2 separate regions of the Homo sapiens genome follow, and region 2 is linked to region 1. The links come from fine-mapping of genetic effects on gene expression. A gene starts in region 1. The other region holds a variant in brackets. All regions are shown on one strand. Distances are between the middles of the regions.

The links. PIP is the estimated chance that this variant, and not a neighbour inherited with it, causes the effect.
Region 2: its variant is the best candidate, but not a certain one, in a credible set for the expression of SPTBN2 in lung (TOPMed, PIP 0.53).

Annotation. Positions count from the first base shown.
Region 1 is chr11:66,724,818-66,734,259 of GRCh38, forward strand. It overlaps SPTBN2 (spectrin beta, non-erythrocytic 2), which reads right to left and starts at 4,399. Exons shown (of 38, transcript NM_006946.4): 1 at 3,924-4,399.
Region 2 is chr11:66,421,584-66,431,025 of GRCh38, forward strand. It overlaps NPAS4 (neuronal PAS domain protein 4), which reads left to right. Exons shown (of 8, transcript NM_178864.4): 2 at 537-688; 3 at 868-970; 4 at 1,091-1,358; 5 at 1,540-1,649; 6 at 1,995-2,130; 7 at 2,252-3,687; 8 at 4,378-5,124. The coding sequence ends at 4,406. Among named protein-coding and RNA genes, the nearest start is that of NPAS4, 5.3 kb to the left of the region's middle. RefSeq lists an enhancer at 1-94 and silencers at 27-341, 35-329. The variant G/A (reference allele first, on the strand shown) is at 4,216.

The sequences.
Region 1 (9,442 bases):
TCTCACCACCCATCACTTCTCTCTTCTCCATACCTCCTTCCTTTCCAGAACCAGAGACTGCCAAGACCACAGCCCTGGTGGTAGGAAGTAGGGCTCAGGAGAAATGCAGAATTGGGGGTTTTGTTAAAGTTACAAAGGGGCCCAACTGGGAGCCAGACCCTCCAGGGAAGTCCAACTGTTAGAATGTCTCTGCGGATTCCTACCATTACCAGGAGAAAGTATGGAGCTAGAACCTCCTCTTCCCCCAAATAAAACCTCAGCCACTTAAATGCTCCTCTCTCCAAATTGAATTTGAAGCATGCATGCTGTGTGTTCTGAGTTTCCAGAAATGCTGTGATATGGATCAGGAACCAAGCTGGCACTGGTGTCCTTAGATCACAGACCCCCACAGGGCCACCATGTTGCAACTCCACAGCCTTCCATGTGAATGGTGCTCTCTGGCATTGTTCAGCATGTGGCTCTGAGGCTCTGCTACCTTTGTGTCTCTAGGTCTTGGTTTCCAAGCATTCTGGCTCTGTAGCTCCCTGGCCTTTTGGACAATATGCTGTGTTCTCAGCTTGTGTCCCCTGCTGCCATCTCTAGATTCCCACTGATTTCTATTTGCTTTTCTCCTACACATATCCAGCGCTGGTTTCTTGCCACTGAGTAGATCATTCCTCACCTATGACCAGGGTCTCCATGCTCACATTTCCTCAGTCGGCCAGCAGCCCCCCAGCTTCATGACCCCCTGTCATGAGGAAGCTGGAGAATCCTCAATCGTCCTCTCTTCCACAGATTCCTGAAGTCTGGCAATAGGGTGGTGCAGTAGCTAATCCAGATTACAGTCTCATCATACCTTATTCTTAGCAATTGACCTCAAGGCCAGGCCCAAGTAGCTTACACTGTTAGTGCTAGAAGAATGCCAACCCCCGCCGGCTGCAGGCTTGGGGTCCTGCTGGAATGTACTCCAGGCGCTGCTGGAGGCAGACTAGGCTCACCGTGCCGATCCTCCAGGGCAGTTTTCCTCTCTTTCAGCTGACATGTTAAGCTAGAAATCCTATACCCTGGGCTACAGGCTGCCTTGTATCCTAATTCTTCCTCTCACCACATCCTGCTCCTGATGAATTATTTCCCTCCCTCAGAGTTGATCATTCCCTCCTCTGTGCTTCCAGGGCACTTCGGCATGCAGCTAGTATTGTACTTATCACATCGCATTACGGTTAGTTGTTTACGTGTCTCTCTGCCCGCTCCACATTTAACTCATTGAGGACAAGGGCTGTCTTACTCGTTTTGGTGTTTTTCCAGACTCAGTACAACAGATATTCAATAAAGAGATATTGAATGACTTGACTATAATTCATTTTTTTTGGCCATGGAATTAATGTCTTTCTTAGGACTAGAGAGAAGCTCAAGGAAAGAATGAACACGGGATTGGAGAAGACCTGCTCCTGGGCTGGAATACTTTCAGGGTTGAGCTCAACAGCTCAGGTCTGGGGATTCTCAAACTTCCATGAATCACAACAACCTGGAGGACTGTTAAATCACAGGTCACCCCCCCATCCCCCAGTTTACGATTCAGTACTTCTGGGGTGGTACCTGGGAATGTGCATTTCTAACCTGTTCCCGGGTGACACTGAAGCTAATGGTCTGGGGACCACACTTTGAGGGCCACCCTTGTCCAAAGATGAGAAGCAGCTGGAATTGGTTAGAGGAGCCATGAGTGTTGAGAAGACACAAAGTTTCAGGGGTGAGTGTGACCCAGGGTTAGCTTCTAGGTCTGCTCAGGCCCTACCCCACACTAAACTCAAATATCACTTCCCCTCAGGAGCTCAGGCGATGGGAGAGGAAGATGAAGATGGAGTAGGTACCACAGGTAATGAAAGAAACAGCACAGCGAACCGCAGATATGCGGGAGGAGAACGGCAGAGCTAGAGAAGTCACGGGAAGGCAGAGTTGAACAAATGACAGTGAGATGAATAATAGATTAGAAGAAATGGGGACTTTGGCAAAGTTCAAATCTTATTTGCTTCTAAGTATAAATGGGTGGACTGGCAGAGAGATAAAACGAAAAAGAAGTCACAAATCAGCTCAGGGCCTCCAGGAAGGCAAGAGAAAGATGGGCCCAGGGCAGAAGGAAGGAACAGCAAAACCCCGACCCACCTCTCAGACTGTGTTCCTGATCAATTCCCTCGGAGGAAGTTAGGAACTGGGCTGAAGAGGGGGACTGAAATTTTATTTTCTCTTCTAGAATCCTCCAGTTATGGCAGATTTATTCAAATATTCAGATTCTTCACTCCCTTGCTATCTCCCTTCCCCAACCCGGGGTCACATCAATTTCTCTAAGGGAAGAATGTAAACTCCATCCTATCTTCTCCTCGGCCAATCCTTTGCCTTTCTGAATAAGCCAAGAGGTTGCCCCACACCTCAAGCTAAGACACATATTTGGAACTCACTCTGCCCCTCTTCACCTTCAAGGAAAACTGGTTTGTTGCTACCTCTGCCCATACCTGAAACCCCCGGGCTCTCCAGCGTTGGAACTGTGGCTGCTCCGAGAGGGGGAGGGCAGACGACATGTAGCAGGTTAAGACCGGGGCAAACCTGCACCTCACACAAGCATGCAATGTCCTGGGGTCAATGGGGTAAAGTTCCAAGCGAGTGGAAGGTAAATCACGACTGTGGCACCGGAGCCGGAACACCCCCGCGAGCAGGCCTTGCTGGGTAGTTCCGTGCGGGGCGGACCGCACAGCCCTATCAGCTTCCTGGCCACAGAAACGCCGCACGCGGCCGCTTCCCCGCCGCCCGAAGCGTCTGCTTTCTCCCCGGGCCAGTTCCGGCCACCACAGCCAACCGCGTGCCCCTCTCCCACACACTGTGGGGGAACAGAAGGGAGCGCGTGGAGCCAGCTGCCAAAGAGGCGAGGAGGAGCCCACGCGGCTCCGGGGAGGAGGGAGCCCGGCTCCCGCAGTCCGCCGGGCAGAGGCGGCCGAGCGCGCCCCCAGCACCTGGCCCGGCGCCGGCCCGTCCGCCCCGCAGCCCCGGCGACGCGAGGGGCCGGCGCTGTCAGACCCGCTCCCAGCCTCGCCGCGAACGTGTCCGTCAGCCCTAACTGTTCCAGACTCTTCTCCCGGCTCCAGAGAGGCCCGAGTCCCCCCCCCTCGGCCTTGGCCCCCACCGCCCTCATCCCGGTACCTGTGTGGCTGGCACGGGACCCTCTCCGTCCCGTCCCCGCCTGCTCCCGCCCCGGCTCACCCCGGCCGCCGGGACCCGACCCCGACCCCGACCCCGACCCCGCCGACCGCACGCGGCCGGACAAAGCGCGCCGCCCCGCGGGCCGGGACAAAGCGGGCGGGGCGCCGGCACCTACCTCGGCGCGGAGCCGCGGCCGGGCGGGCGGGGGCGCGGCGGGCGGGGGCGCACCGGTAGTTGCCGCGCCTGCAGCCCGGCCGCGACGGGCGGTTGCAGGCAGCGGCCGGGCGCACGGCGGGCGGCGGGCGGGCGCTGTCACGGGGCGCAGGCGGCGCGGGGGGCGCGCGGGGCGGGCGGCGGCGGGGCGCGTGGCGGCGGCGCGCGGGCGCGAGCGGCGGGACTGCGGCGCCGCGGAAGGAGGACAATAGCCTCCCCCTGCCGCAGGCCGCCGGCTCCCGCGGGAGGCCCGGGACCATCTGGAGCCGGCGGCCCCGCGGGGCTCTGGGCGGGGCCCGAGTCGCCCCTTCCCCGCCCAGCGCCATGGCAACCGAGGCCCCTCTCGGTGCTCCCCGCCGCTCCCCGCCCGGGGTAGTTGACCTGCCTCGGGGCGAACGCGGCAGCAGCTCCGAGGCCGGCTGCCGACCCCCAGCCACCTTCCGTGCGGGGTCCCCCCAAAACCCCGCCTTCCCGTCCTCGCTGGTCCCTGGGTCCCCCACCACAGCTTACAGGTCTTGATCTCCCCGGTTCGGACACCTCACCTTTGTCCCTATTCTGCTTTTCCTCCAAAATCCGTATCCCCGAGACACGCGATCCTTCCTCTAATGACACTGCCGACGAGGTTTCCCGAGATCCAGCCTCCGTTCCCCTTTCCTCTCCGGGCACCTCCAGTCCGTCTCCGCTAAGCATTCCTCTCACCCGTCCCCTCGCTCTCGCGTCCTCCTTCAGGCAGCTGGGCCGGCTCTCCCTCCCAGAACATCTCCATGGCACAGTGAAGATTCGTCTTCTACAGATCAGATGCTCCAAACAGGCATCTCAGCGCTTCTCAGCTCCTCTCATTTATCAACCAGGAGAATTCCGGCCTAGTCACCGTCTTGAGGGGGGTGGGGGTGGGGGCAGACATTTCTAGGCCTGACACGGCTGGGTTTCTCCTTGGTTTGTTAGCGTCTGAGTGGTCTAAGGTCCAAGGTCCTTAACCAAGGTGAACTGCTGCCTGCTTAGGAGAGGAAGGAATTATGCCCAAATCATGACAAACTCACAGAGTGCCAGGTGGGTGCTAAAAGCGCATCATCTCATGTGACACTCCCACCCCCACTCCAGCTCTGAGAAGTAGGTGCTGTTCTTCCAGATTAGAGAACTCAGCTCAGAGATGAGCCAGTGGTAACAGGGTGAGCTTTGTACAGAGCCGTTAGGTTATGTACTGCCCCTGAAGATGAGGGCCCGTTTCTATCCAGGGAATGCCTGAAATGGTCAAGTAAGGGCACTCAAAGAATGGGCTTTGAGTGAATTATTGGATTTAAGGTTTTATAATAGATTTATGGGTAATTTAGGATTTTGCTCCTTTCTGAAAAGGTATGCATACTGAAACAAATATGTGCAATTGAAGTACTTTCCAGATATGGTTTTGACAACCCTAACTAGTGGTGTCATCTACCTCGCCTTGGTTTTCCTAGTCTATAAAATGGGTTGGGAGGAGGGTTGGGGAGTTCCATTGAAAGATTACTTTGAAGTTCTCTCCTAGCTCTGATATCTGTGCTTCTACCACGAAACTGGAACTGGCTCTCTGGTGTGTACCTCACAGTTAGCTGCATTTGAGGCTATTTATTATTATTATTATTTTGAGACGGAGTCGTGCTCTGTCACCCAGGCTGGAGTACAGTGGCTTGATCTCGGCTCACTGCAACCTCCTCTTCCCGGGTTCAAGCAATTTTCCTGCCTCAGCCTCCCGAGTAGCTGGGATTACAGGTGCATGCCACCATGCCCGACTAATTTTTGTATCTTTAGTAGAGTCAGAGTTTTGCCATGTTGGCCAGGCTGTTCTTGAACTCCTGACCTCAGGTGATCTGCCTGCCTCAGCCTCCCAAAGTGCTGGGATTACAGACGTGAGCTGCCGTGCCAGGCCTGAGGCTATTTATTATTTTTAATAGCCACTCTTTCAGGCAATGGCATTAAAGAAACAAGGGCATAAACTGCAACTCTTCCCAGAGGTAGGATTATGTGTTGGTTGGTTCGGGGGAAGGAGGCACCAACCTGTGCATGACGGTCATCAGGGACACTTGGTCAGGGACATTAAAGCTGATGGGATGAGAATCAGCTGCCCATGGCCAGGCGCAGTGGCTCACCCTTGTAATCCCAGCACTTTGGGAGGCCGAGGCAGGTGGATCGCGAGGTCAGGAGTTCAAGACCAGCCTGGCCAACATGGTGAAACCCCTTCTCTACTAAAAATACACAAATTAGCCAGGCGTGGTGGTGGGCATGAAATCCCAGCTACTCAGGAGGCTGAGGCAGGAGAATCGCTTGAACCCGGGAGGCAGAGGTTGCAGTGAGCTGAGATTGTGCCACTGCACTTCAGCCTGGGCAACAAGAACGAGACTCCATCTCCAAAAAAAAAAAAAAAAATTAGAGAATCAGCTGCCCTGCCAAAGGAACTGGAACCACCAAGCTGCTGCTGCTGTACTGGTTACGGGAACTAAGGGTCTCAATGACAGCCTATAATATCGTGACCCAATTAGAAGTCAAGGGTATTAAGTCTTATGATTAGCAAAATAATATCTTTTATAATTTCCTATTTTCAGCATTTCATAATCCTTCAAGAAGCCTTGTAAGATAAACATTCTCATTCTTATTCTATTGATGAACAGACTGATGTTCAGACACCTAAGTGAATGTACAAGTTCACAGAATTAGTTCATGGTAGAAACTCCAGGTCTTCTGAATCCTAATATGTTCTTTCCTCTCTGCTAGACAGGGAGTATAGCAGAATGGTTAAAAGCATTGATTTTGGAGTCAGACTCCTTGGGTTTAAAACATAGTTCTGCCACCCACTGACTATGTGACCTTGGGCAAGTTACCTCCCTAGGATTCAGTTTCCTTACATGTAAAATGGCACCATAATGTGGGGAACATCAAATGAATTATTGCAGGTAAATGAATTATATGCAGCACATAGTAAGCACTTAATCAGTATCAGCCGTTATGATTTTACCGTATTATTTCCCATACTGTTTCCCGATTTGGAGAGGAAGCACATTGAATAAAGAGAACACTGAGATCACCTATCTCAGCTCTGTGACTGGGTTGCTTTGGAAACTTGTTATTTTGCTCTGTAGTGAACCAGTACAGTCAATGATGAAGAAAATATCTGGTTCCTTCTTATTTGAGTTGCAAAAGCGAATGGAATGATATCCACCAAGTTTGTTGAGCTTCTCAGTGAATCCACATTTGCTGCTTACATTACCAAGATTCATGGAAAGGTTTTGGCTCTGCCCACCAAACATACATACATAGCCGAATTCTCAGTTCTTGTTTCAATACCAGGGAAGAGGTGTCCCTCTTTTCACCTAAGATGGATTCTTCTGGCTCCTATGCTAAGTCTCATCCCCTTCTGCAGCCTCACGGCCCTCACTGCTGTCTCTCAGCTGGTTCCTTCCCATCAGCATTTAAACATGCTCAAGCATTTGCCAGCTTAAAAAATAATCAAGAAGCCCCGACTTCCCTCCATGCATTCCCCTTGCTCTTTATGTTCACAGTCTTCCTGAGTCATTTGCACTCATTGGCTTCACTTCCTCGCCCCTGCTCAATCAAATATTTATGCAAAAACTATATGGCTAATTATATACCAGGCACTGTGCTGGGATCTGGGGATATAATGATGAGTAAAATGGATACTGTCTGTTTTCTCTTGGAAGAGCCTGTGGTGGGATTGACAGACATTAATAAAATAACCCATCAGATATATAACCACAAAGTATAATGAGTGTTATGAATGAAAAGTTCAGGATGTTAAGAGAGAACTGAACAGAGTCATAACCTCAGATCACCTGAGCTGAGATCTGAAATATGAGAAGCATTAACCAGACAGAGTGGGGAATAATAATAGCTGTTACTAACATTAACGTGGAACTGTATTTCTAATACTTTACACATAACATTTCATTTAATCCTTTATAACAACTCCAAGAGGTAAGTATTAACCCCATTTCACAGATGAGGAAATGGAGACATTGAGAGATTAAGTACCTTACTCAGGGTCATCAAACCAGGCAAGGGTAGAGCTGGGATTTTAACCCAATCTGACCCTTGAACCCATGTTCTTAGCCACAGAGCATATGGCTAACAGGCCTGATGTTGCAGGACACATGGTGTACATAGGAAATGGAGAAAAGAGGCCGGGTGCAGTGGCTCACGACTTTGTAATCCCAGCACTTTGGGAGGCCAAAGTAAGCGGATCACAAGGTCAGGAGATTGAGACCATCCTGGCTAACACAGTGAAACCCCTTTTCTACTAAAAATACAAAAAAATTAGCTGGGCGTGGTGGCATGCGCCTGTAATCCCAGCTACTCGGGAGGCTGAGGCAGGAGAATTGCTTGAACCCGGGAGGCAGAGGTTGCAGTGAGCTGAGATCATTCCACTACACTCCAGCCTGGGCAACAGAGCAAGACTCTGTCTCTCAAAAAAAAAAAAAAAAAAAAATGGAGAAAAGAGGCTGCGCGCGGTGGCTCACGCCTGTAATCCCAGCACTTTGGGAGGCTGAGGCAGGTGGATCACCTGAGGTCAGGAGTTCGAGACTAGCCTGGCCAACATGGTGAAACCTCATCTCTACTAAAAATACAAGAATTAGCCGGGCGTGGTGGCAAGTGCCTGTAATCCCAGCTACTCGGGAGGCTGAGGCAGGACAATCTCTTGAGCCCAGGAGACGGAGGCTACAGTGAGCTGAGATTGTGCCACTGCACTCCAGCCTGGGGGACAGAGTGAGACTCTTTTTCAAAAAACCAACCAACCAAAAAAAAAAAAAAAAACAATACAAAAGAAATGGAGAAAAGACCAGGGTGCAGGGAAAACAGAGGGGAAGAGGGAATGTGTAGAGAATTGCGACTGGGGAGATAGGCAAGGGCTAGATCATGCAGAGCTTTTTATGTCATTATTTAAAGAATTTTGATTTTCACCTTTAGAGCCCTGAGAGACTATTGAAAGGTTGAAATAAGGAAGTGATAGGATCAACTTTGTATTTTAAAAAGGTCACTGTAGCTGCTATGGGGGGAATAGGTTACTCCAGTTGCTATGGAGGGGTGCAAAGATGTGTGAGAAACCAGTTAGGAGGCTACCACTGTGGGTAGGGTGACAGAGAAGATGGTAGCTTGAACTCAGTTGCTGGCAGTGGAGATGGAGTGCACAGGTTGAAAGAATTAACCAGATGTGGTGATGGGATAGATACAGGGGTGGTGGTGAGGAAAAAGGGTTAGTCAAGGATGAGTTGTGCAACTGGAATAATGGAGCTACTATTTGCTGAGATGAGGAATACTCCAGGAAAACCAGGTTTGGGTGGAGAGATTGTTGGTTTTGGAACCTAGGTTTGAGGTATCTTTGAACCAATCAAGTGGAGATATTGAGTAGTCAATTGTATATGGGCGTGGACTTTAAAGGGGAGGTCTGGACTTAAGATACCCATTTGGAATACATCAGTGTAGAAATAGATGGTAATTGAAGGGGATAGATGAGCATTGATACAATTGACTTAATCCAATGCAACAGAACTTCCACTCTAAAGCTGCTTTCAACAAGGTTGTCAATAATCCTATTGCACCTGGCTAACAAGGTGAAACCCCGTCTCTACTAAAAATACAAAAAATTAGCCGGGCGCGGTGGCAGGCGCCTGTAGTCCCAGCTACTCGGGAGGCTGAGGCAGGAGAATGGCGTGAACCCGGGAAGCAGAGCTTGCAGTGAGCCGAGATTGCGCCACTGCAGTCCGCAGTCTGGCCTGGGCGACAGAGAGAGACTCCGTCTCAAAAAAAAAAAAAAAAAAAAAAATTATCCTATTGCAAAATCCAGCTGTTAGTTTCCAATTGCTGTCTTACTTCTCCTCTTGGCAGCAATTGACTCTAATTATGCCCTGCTTCTTGAAATTTTCTTCTTTTGTTATGGGGTTGCCATTCTCTTGGTTTTCCTTCAACCCTTGTGGTCCTTCTCTGTTTCTTTTGTGAGTTCCTTTTCTGCTTGTCGCTTAATTTTGTTATTGATGGTGGTGTTTTGTCTAGGCCTTTTCTTATTCTCTGCGCTCTT
Region 2 (9,442 bases), 300 kb before region 1:
TATGAGAGGATAAGAGCCAGGACAGAGCGGCCTCGGTGCCCGCCAGTGCAGAAGCGCTCCGGGAGCCGGGGAGGGAAGCCCGGGAAGTTGCAGGGATGGAGCTGCCTGAGCCTAGGGGAACATAGCTACTGTCCGCGGTGCTGAAAGGGATCTCCTGTCGCCTTCGGGGCGCTGCCCATGGTGCTGACGGCTGCGCCGGCCGTGTATGGCTCTGTCCATGGTTCTGAACCCACAGTCGGCTTCGGAGCTCTGTCCGCGGTTCTGAAATTCAGAGCCGCTTTGGAGCTCTGTCCGCGGTTCTGAAATTAAGAGCCGAGAGGAGCCGACCCCGCTTTAGAAGTCGAGGGCTTGTGGGCTATGGAGATACAGCAACAGGTTCCCTGGCCAAGAGCTGCGGGCAGCGGGTCAACAGGTGTTTGCAGAGGCAGGTCCATGAGAAATTCCTCTGGATTCTCTGAAACTCAGACCATGCCTTCCTCACTTCTTCTCTGCCTCCCAGTCTTACTCCTGACGCACTACGTCTTCTCGCCCTACAGGCACTCCTCTGGCGGGCCCCACGGGGCTTCTCTCAGCTCAAGAGCTTGAGGACATCGTAGCGGCACTACCCGGCTTTCTGCTTGTGTTCACAGCCGAGGGGAAATTGCTCTACCTGTCTGAGAGTGTGAGCGAGCATCTGGGCCACTCCATGGTGAGTGCTAAGGGTCCTTTCAGCTGAGGCTGGGCATGGAGTGGGTGCCGTGAGCCTTCCACTCCTGAGGAACTGGGAATTACTATGGAGGGAGAGGTTATACCCTACAAGATACTGTAGATCAAAGATTGGCTCCTGCTGTTCTCCCTAATGGTCATCTCTTCTTTTCCTCCCTCCAGGTGGACCTGGTTGCCCAGGGTGACAGCATCTACGACATCATTGACCCAGCTGACCACCTCACTGTGCGCCAGCAACTCACCCTGCCCTCTGCCCTGGACACTGGTAAGGACTCCCTTCTCCCTTCCTCGGTCCAATTTCCCACCTGCTGCCCTTCTCCCCACCATCCACTGTCTCTCTCTCAGCCACTCACCCTCTTATCTGTTTTTCTCTTCATCTATCTAGATCGCCTCTTCCGCTGCCGCTTCAACACCTCCAAGTCCCTCAGGCGCCAGAGTGCAGGCAACAAACTCGTGCTTATTCGAGGCCGATTCCATGCTCACCCACCTGGAGCCTACTGGGCAGGAAATCCCGTGTTCACAGCTTTCTGTGCCCCTCTGGAGCCGAGACCCCGCCCAGGTCCTGGCCCTGGCCCTGGCCCTGCCTCGCTCTTCCTGGCCATGTTCCAGAGCCGCCATGCTAAAGACCTGGCTCTACTGGACATCTCCGAGAGGTAAGCCTGGAGTGTTCAGATTCCAAGAGAAAGGCAGGCCAGAGATGAAGGGACCCTAGATTCTGGAGTCAGGGGCAGGGAGGATGGGGTTTAGGGGGGCAGAGGATCTGGGAGGGAGTGAGATGCATGGGTATCAAGCAAGGAAAACAGAAAGCTGACCTCACCCTTTCCACCTTCCCAGTGTCCTAATCTACCTGGGCTTTGAGCGCAGTGAACTGCTTTGTAAATCATGGTATGGACTGCTGCACCCCGAGGACCTGGCCCACGCTTCTGCTCAACACTACCGCCTGTGTGAGTGTCCAGAGAGGCTGGGGACAAGATAGCAAGCTGGGAAAGGGCATGGGAGACCAGACAAAGAATGATCTGTAGTCAAGAGTGATGCTGGGGAGATAACAGAGGCCAACAGTTTCGGATGCTATAGGGTGAACATGAAGGTGAGGATTCAAGGCAATAATCAAATCAGAACTGGGGGACTCTGAGTGGTGAGGTCAAGGTAGAGAGCTGAGTGGTTCAGGTGAGGGTAGTCAGAAGAGAGGATGTCACGGCTATCTCAATTCAGTGGAGAGGTGACCAAGGGTGGGGAGTAGGTAGAATTGCCTGGTGGACATCCTAACTCTGCATCTTCTTTCTCCCCAGTGGCTGAGAGTGGAGATATTCAGGCAGAGATGGTGGTGAGGCTACAGGCCAAGACTGGAGGCTGGGCATGGATTTACTGCCTGTTATACTCAGAAGGTCCAGAGGGACCCATTACTGCCAATAACTACCCAATCAGGTAAGCCACAAGCCAGGGGACTAGGGGGCAGCTGAGGTCGTCATGGAGGAGACACAAATCAGGGAACTGCTCTGGATATGGACGTCGGACCCTTACCAGCTGCCTCTTCTCTCCTCTCCAGTGACATGGAAGCCTGGAGCCTCCGCCAGCAGTTGAACTCTGAAGACACCCAGGCAGCTTATGTCCTGGGCACTCCGACCATGCTGCCCTCATTCCCTGAAAACATTCTTTCCCAGGAAGAGTGCTCCAGCACTAACCCACTCTTCACCGCAGCACTGGGGGCTCCCAGAAGCACCAGCTTCCCCAGTGCTCCTGAACTGAGTGTTGTCTCTGCATCAGAAGAGCTTCCCCGACCCTCCAAAGAACTGGACTTCAGTTACCTGACATTCCCTTCTGGGCCTGAGCCTTCTCTCCAAGCAGAACTAAGCAAGGATCTTGTGTGCACTCCACCTTACACGCCCCATCAGCCAGGAGGCTGTGCCTTCCTCTTCAGCCTCCATGAGCCCTTCCAGACCCATTTGCCCACCCCATCCAGCACTCTTCAAGAACAGCTGACTCCAAGCACTGCGACCTTCTCTGATCAGTTGACGCCCAGCAGTGCAACCTTCCCAGATCCACTAACTAGCCCACTGCAAGGCCAGTTGACTGAAACCTCGGTCAGAAGCTATGAAGACCAGTTGACTCCCTGCACCTCCACCTTCCCAGACCAGCTGCTTCCCAGCACAGCCACCTTCCCAGAGCCTCTGGGCAGCCCTGCCCATGAACAGCTGACTCCTCCCAGCACAGCATTCCAAGCACACCTGGACAGCCCCAGCCAAACCTTCCCAGAGCAACTGAGCCCCAACCCTACCAAGACTTACTTTGCCCAGGAGGGATGCAGTTTTCTCTATGAGAAGTTGCCCCCAAGTCCTAGCAGCCCTGGTAATGGGGACTGCACGCTCTTGGCCCTAGCCCAGCTCCGGGGCCCCCTCTCTGTGGATGTCCCCCTGGTGCCCGAAGGCCTGCTCACACCTGAGGCCTCTCCAGTCAAGCAGAGTTTCTTCCACTACTCTGAAAAGGAGCAGAATGAGATAGACCGTCTCATCCAGCAGATTAGCCAATTGGCTCAGGGCATGGACAGACCCTTCTCAGCTGAGGCTGGCACTGGCGGACTAGAGCCACTTGGAGGACTGGAGCCCCTGGACTCCAACCTGTCCCTGTCAGGGGCAGGCCCCCCTGTGCTCAGCCTGGACCTGAAACCCTGGAAATGCCAGGAGCTGGACTTCCTGGCTGACCCTGATAACATGTTCCTGGAAGAGACGCCCGTGGAAGACATCTTCATGGATCTCTCTACCCCAGATCCCAGTGAGGAATGGGGCTCAGGGGATCCTGAGGCAGAGGGCCCAGGAGGGGCCCCATCGCCTTGCAACAACCTGTCCCCAGAAGACCACAGCTTCCTGGAGGACCTGGCCACATATGAAACCGCCTTTGAGACAGGTGTCTCAGCATTCCCCTATGATGGGTTTACTGATGAGTTGCATCAACTCCAGAGCCAAGTTCAAGACAGCTTCCATGAAGGTGAGTCAGCCAAAAGGTCCAAGAACTCAAGTCCCTGTCCTGCCAATGAAATGCTGGGTAGATTTAGGCAAATCAATTCCCCCTCTCTGTACATTGATTTTATTAAGGGGATGACATCCCCTGCTGAAGAGAGTAGCAGTGGAGATAAGAAAAAATGAAAGACTTAATATGAAAGTTTGAACAAGCAGACTTGGCAGGGGTTGGGGCTGTGGGATAGAGTGCTAGGGAATTCTTAAGTAAGGGCTTGTGCTTAACTCCATGAGAGGCCTAGATCAGTCTTCAGCACCCCATTTTACAGATGAAAATAATCAAGGTCCCAGAGTTAAACAGACTTTCCTTAGGGTGCACAACAAACTGATGGAAGAGGGACTAGAGCTCTATCCTAGTATCCTAGCTCCCTGAAGGGGATACAGAGCAAGAATTTATGCAAGTTGGTAAAAGAAAGACGAGGCTCAGCCCCTGACTCCATTGAGGTAGCTCCCTGGTTACAGCCCCATCCTTCCTAAACTACAGCCACAGTTTCACTCC[G/A]TCCATCCAAATTGCCCCCTAATCTACTGAGCCTCTGGCCATCATTTCATCATTGAGCCAATATCTTTGAAGCCTATACTAATACCAACACATTCTCAGCCCCAGGATCCTCTGTGCTAATTGGTCTAACTGATTGTGTTCTCTCTATCTATCTCTCTGCAGATGGAAGTGGAGGGGAACCAACGTTTTGAATAAGTCTGTGACTTAACGTCGTCAAGTATGGCATATTGTCATCAAGACGTGGAGCCGCTCTCCACCCCCCCGGGACTGTTGGGGGGATTCTGAGGGCCAGAGGGGGATATATATGATTCCCCAGGCCCTGCAGGATTTTGGGGGGGGGGAGGTGGGAGGGCAAGGGAGGGGAGCTTCTTTTTAAAATCAAGAGACTTCGAGCGATCCCAGTTTCCATTTCAATCTGTATTCACTCGTAGTGAGTTTCCTTGAATGGGATTTCAAGCGGAGAATGGGGGAGTCTCACTTCCCCGCCGCCTTGCCCCATTGGCCTGGGCCAGTTCTCCACTCCTAGGGGCCAAGCCACCCCTAGCCTTGGTGGGGGAAAGGCAGGGCCCACCCGGGCCAGCCCGTGCCCTGAGGGGCTCTTGACACCCACGTAGAATTCTCTACACACCAGTAACGGGATTTCAATTCCGATGGACTCTGCCGCCCTGGCGGCCCTTCCTGTGACTTTTGCGCCCCGCGCCTGGGGTGGGGGGTGCGAAGAGACGCTACGTTCCTTTCCGATGGAGGAAGGCAGACCTGCCGTCACACGTGTGCTTGCACGAGTGCGTGTACCTGGTGCGGGACTCACCCGGCCGCCAGACTGCCTGGGCCTGCCCAGATGGCCACCTCGTGGTGCTGCGGTGACTTTGTAGCCAACTTTATAATAAAGTCCAGTTTGCCTTTTTGGTACCTCTGGTGTCATGCGCTGCTGTGTAAAAGGAAGGGTGGAGGATAAGTTTGGGAGGCTTGGATGGGAGCCTGGGGGCCAGGAGGTAAAAGCTGGACCTGTTTATGGCCCCAGCATTTCTTCATCCACTTGTGAATTCATTCATTCATTCACTCATTCATTCATTCTTTCACTCAACGTCCACATGTACATTGTGTGGCCCATACTGTGCTAGAAGCTGGAAAGTTTAGGGCTGAAACAGATGTTATGTCTTGCCCTCAAGGTGCTTGGCGTCCAGTACTAGAGAATACTGGCATCTCCTCTCTGCGCCAGGCTTGCAGTGCTCGTGGTGTGGGAGGGGACAGAGGGCCTAGGAGTGGACATGAGGATTCAATTTGATGTTGGGTCTGGGCATGGGTTTGAAGCTTCTGCTCACAAGTTCTTTCTTCACCTGGTCCTTCAGGGAAGCAACTTCCTTGTGGGGCCCTGGATCGACTCACTGGAAATTATAACCACGTCTGTTATCCTTGCACAGGGCTTTCAGCTGACACACACTTTTACCTCTCTTATTTGCTGCAACAATTCTTCTGGGCAGGCATATTAGCCCATCTCACTGATGAAGAAACTGAGGACCACAGGTAAAAAGTTATTTGTTCCCACAATTGATGACAGGCATGGGTGGATGGGCAACATACCCAGAGCATCTGCATCCCAGCCCTGGGCTGTTTTCTCTGCTGGCAGAGCCAGTGAATCACCACCCATCCCAAATCATCTCATCCCAGATTACTCAAGAAGGGCAAATGTGGGCTGGAGCAGGGTCCTCTCTCCCAAGTGTGGGGTGAGAAACCCCTTCTTTTTGCTCTCCAGGTCTGTAAAGTAGAGCTGAGCAGAATATAACTCAGTAAGTCAAGAGAAAAAAGTTTCCAAAAATGCTGTTTTCCTCCAAGCTTGAAGCCCAAACAGCCACAAGGTAGGGTGAGGGGCAAATGAAAATGAGGAGATGGGCTGGGCACAGTGGGTCACGCCTGTAATCCCAGCACCTTGGGAGGACAAGGCAGGAGGATTGCTTGAGCCCAGGAGTTTGAGATCAGCCTGGGAAACATGGTGAAATCCCATCTTTACAAAAAATACAAAAATTATCTGGGTGTGGTGCACACTTGTAGTCCCAGCTACATGAGAGCCTGAGGCTGGAGAATCTCTTGAGCCTGGGAGGTGGAGGTTGCAGTGAGCCAAGACTGCACCACTGTACTCCAGCCTAGGCGACAGAGCGAACCCTGGATTCAAATCTCATCTCCACCAATTATTTGCCAAATGGGACTTGAGGCTCAGTTTCTCCACAAGTGAAGCAGGGCTGACAAACATGGTACTTATCTCCCAAAGATGCTGTTAGAACTTGATAGTGTCCATTTATAAGCAGAGAAGCACAGAATTGACTTAAGTTATTCAATTGAATTAGAAGGCAACGGTGACCTCAAAGGCTTCCCCAGTGAAGTACAGAGGCTGGGTTCCAGGAACTGAGGGCACAACCTGAGAAAGCCCCTAAGCCTCCTTTTATTCCAAATCCTCCAGCTCTGGGGCCATGCCCTTCAGACAGTCCCATGGGAAGGAAGACACTCCTAGGGACCTGTCACTATTTTTCCAACTTGGATGGGTCCTTGGGTGGAAAAGGAGGGTGGAGTTTTGCCCTCTGCCTTCCTTGTGCATCTGTTCTCCAACTTGGACAAAATAACTGGATTGTCAGCCCCAGGAGGACCCTGGCATGGAGCACAGGACTGGCACATAACAGACACACTCAAAATGTCTTCTTGAAAGGAATCTTTCTCTCTTTCTCTCTTTCTCTCTTTCTTTCTTTCTTTGTTGGCAATGTTCACTATATTGCTGGACTCAAACTCCTGGGCTCAAGTGATCCTCCTGCCTCATCCTCCCAAAATACTGGGATTGCAGGTGCACATGGCTGAGAGGACACTTCTGAAGTTCAGTCAAAGGGTTTCATTAGACTCATCAGTTTCTACTGTAAAAATGTGTTCCTAAGTTCCCCAGAGGGAATCTTAAGTGACCATGAGCTCAAGACATGCATTGGAGTCCCATATAAAAACCTCCCTGGGGTCATTAAAAAAAAAAAAAAAGGAAAGTCTGGCCACACAATTGTGGCAGCTCATGCCTATAATCCCAGAATTTTGGGAGGACGAGGTGGGAGGACGGCCTGAGCCCATGAGTTCAATACCAGCCTGGGCAACAAAGCAAGACCCAATCTCTACAAACAAAAATTAGCTGGGCGTGGTGGCATGCACCTGTAGTTCCGTCTACTTGAGAGGTTGAAGTGGGAGGATTGCTTAAGCCCAGGAGTTAGAGACTGCAATGAGCTATGGTCACATCACTGCACTCCAGCCTGGGCAACAGAGCAAGACCCTGCCACAAAAACAAAACAAAAAGGAAAATCTGAGAAACCTAAGGAAACATAATGATGAAATAGAATGTAATATACTAGAGCAGAAAAAGGATGCAAGGTAATGAGGAAGTCTGAATAAAGTATGGACTTCAGTTGATAATACTGTATCAACATTGACTCATTAATTGTGACAAATGTATCATGTAAGTGTAAGATGTTGGTAACAGGTGGAAATGGCTGTGGGGTCTGTGGGAACTTTGTAGGATCTTCAAAACTTTTCTCTAAGTCTAAATCTATAATAGGCCAGGCACGGTGGCTCAAGCCTGTAATCCCAGGATTTTGGGAGGCCGAGGTGTGTGGATCACCTGAGGTCAGGAGTTCGATAGCAGCCTGGCCAACATGGTGAAACCCCGTCTCCACTAAAAATACAAAAATTAGCCGGGCATGGTGGCGTGAGCCTGTAATCCCAGCTACTCGGGAGGCTGAGGCAAGAGAATCACTTGAACCCATTAGGCGGAGGTTGCAGTGAGCTGAGATCATGCCATTGCACTCCAGCCTGGGTGACAGAGTGAGACTCTGTCTCAAAAAACAAAAAAAAAAACAAAACAAAAAAGCCCCATAACTTTTTTTATTTTTTATTTTTTGATATGGAGTCTTGCTCTGTTGCCCAGGCTGGAGTGCAGTGGCACGATCTCGGCTCACTACAGCCTCTGCCTCCCGGGTTCCAGCGATTCTCCTGCCTCAGCCTCCTGGGTAGCTGGGATTCCAGGCGCATGACACCACGCCTGGCTAATTTTTCTATTTTTAGTAGAGACGGGGTTTCACCATGTTGGCCAAGCTTCTCTCAATCTCTTGACCTCGTGATCTACCAGCTTCAGCCTCCTAAAGTGCTGGGATTACAGGCGTGAGCCACCATGCCCAGCCGCCCCACAACTTTAAAAGGTAAAAATTATGGAAGAAAAAAAGAAACCCCTCCCTGGTATTTGGTGGCAGTGACAGGAGATGGTAGAGTGTGTGTGGACAAGAAGGCACCCTGACACTCAGAACTGGAGAGCCAGGCCGTCGACCCATGCGGAGAAAGAAGTTGAGCGAGCCCATTGCGCCCCCTGCTGGACATAGAACCATCTGCTTCTGTTCCCTTCCCTGGCACGGTCCCTGTGGCTCAGAGCATCAACAATATTGCATCTTAGAATAGATGGGTAAACTGAGGCCCAGAGAGAAGAAAGGAATTGCCCAATGGCACTTCCAAAGTGGCTGCAGAAGCCAAATCTGACTCTCAAGCACCCTTGCCACCAACACCAGGTTGCTGCCCTGGGAGCAAAAAGGTATGAGAAAGGGCTGAAGTTTTGGAGTCACAAAGACTGAGGTCAAATATTGGCTCTGGCACTTCATTTTGCATGTGATAAACACTTATGACACCTACATGCGCCAAGGGCTTTGCTGGGTCCTGGGGAAAACTGAACAAGACAGACAAGGTCCCTGGACTCACAGACCTTACACTGAAGTTGTGGGGAGACGTAACAAAAAGTAAAATAACTCTTTAAAGGGAGCATGCAGTGCGTGCAGTGAAAGAAAGAACCTGTGTACTGTGGCCGAGCGGAACTGAGGAGGGGGTGCTAATTTAGAATGTGGCATCAGAAAGCTCTTCTAAGGTGACATTGAGCTAAGACCTAAAAGATAAGAAAGAAGAAGAGGCCGGGCACGGTGGCTTGTGCCTGTAATCCTAGCACTTTGGGAGACTGAAGCAGGTGGATAGCTTGAGTCCAGGAGTTTGAAACCAGCCTGGGCAACAAGGCAAAACCCCGTCTCTACAAAAAAAAAAAAAAAAAAAAAAAAAAAGCAAAAAGTTAGCCAGGTGTGGTGGTGTGCACCTGTAGTCCCAGCTACCCAAAAGGCTGAGGTGGGAAGATCACCTGAGCCCAGAAGGGCGAGGCTGCAGTGAGCCTTGATTG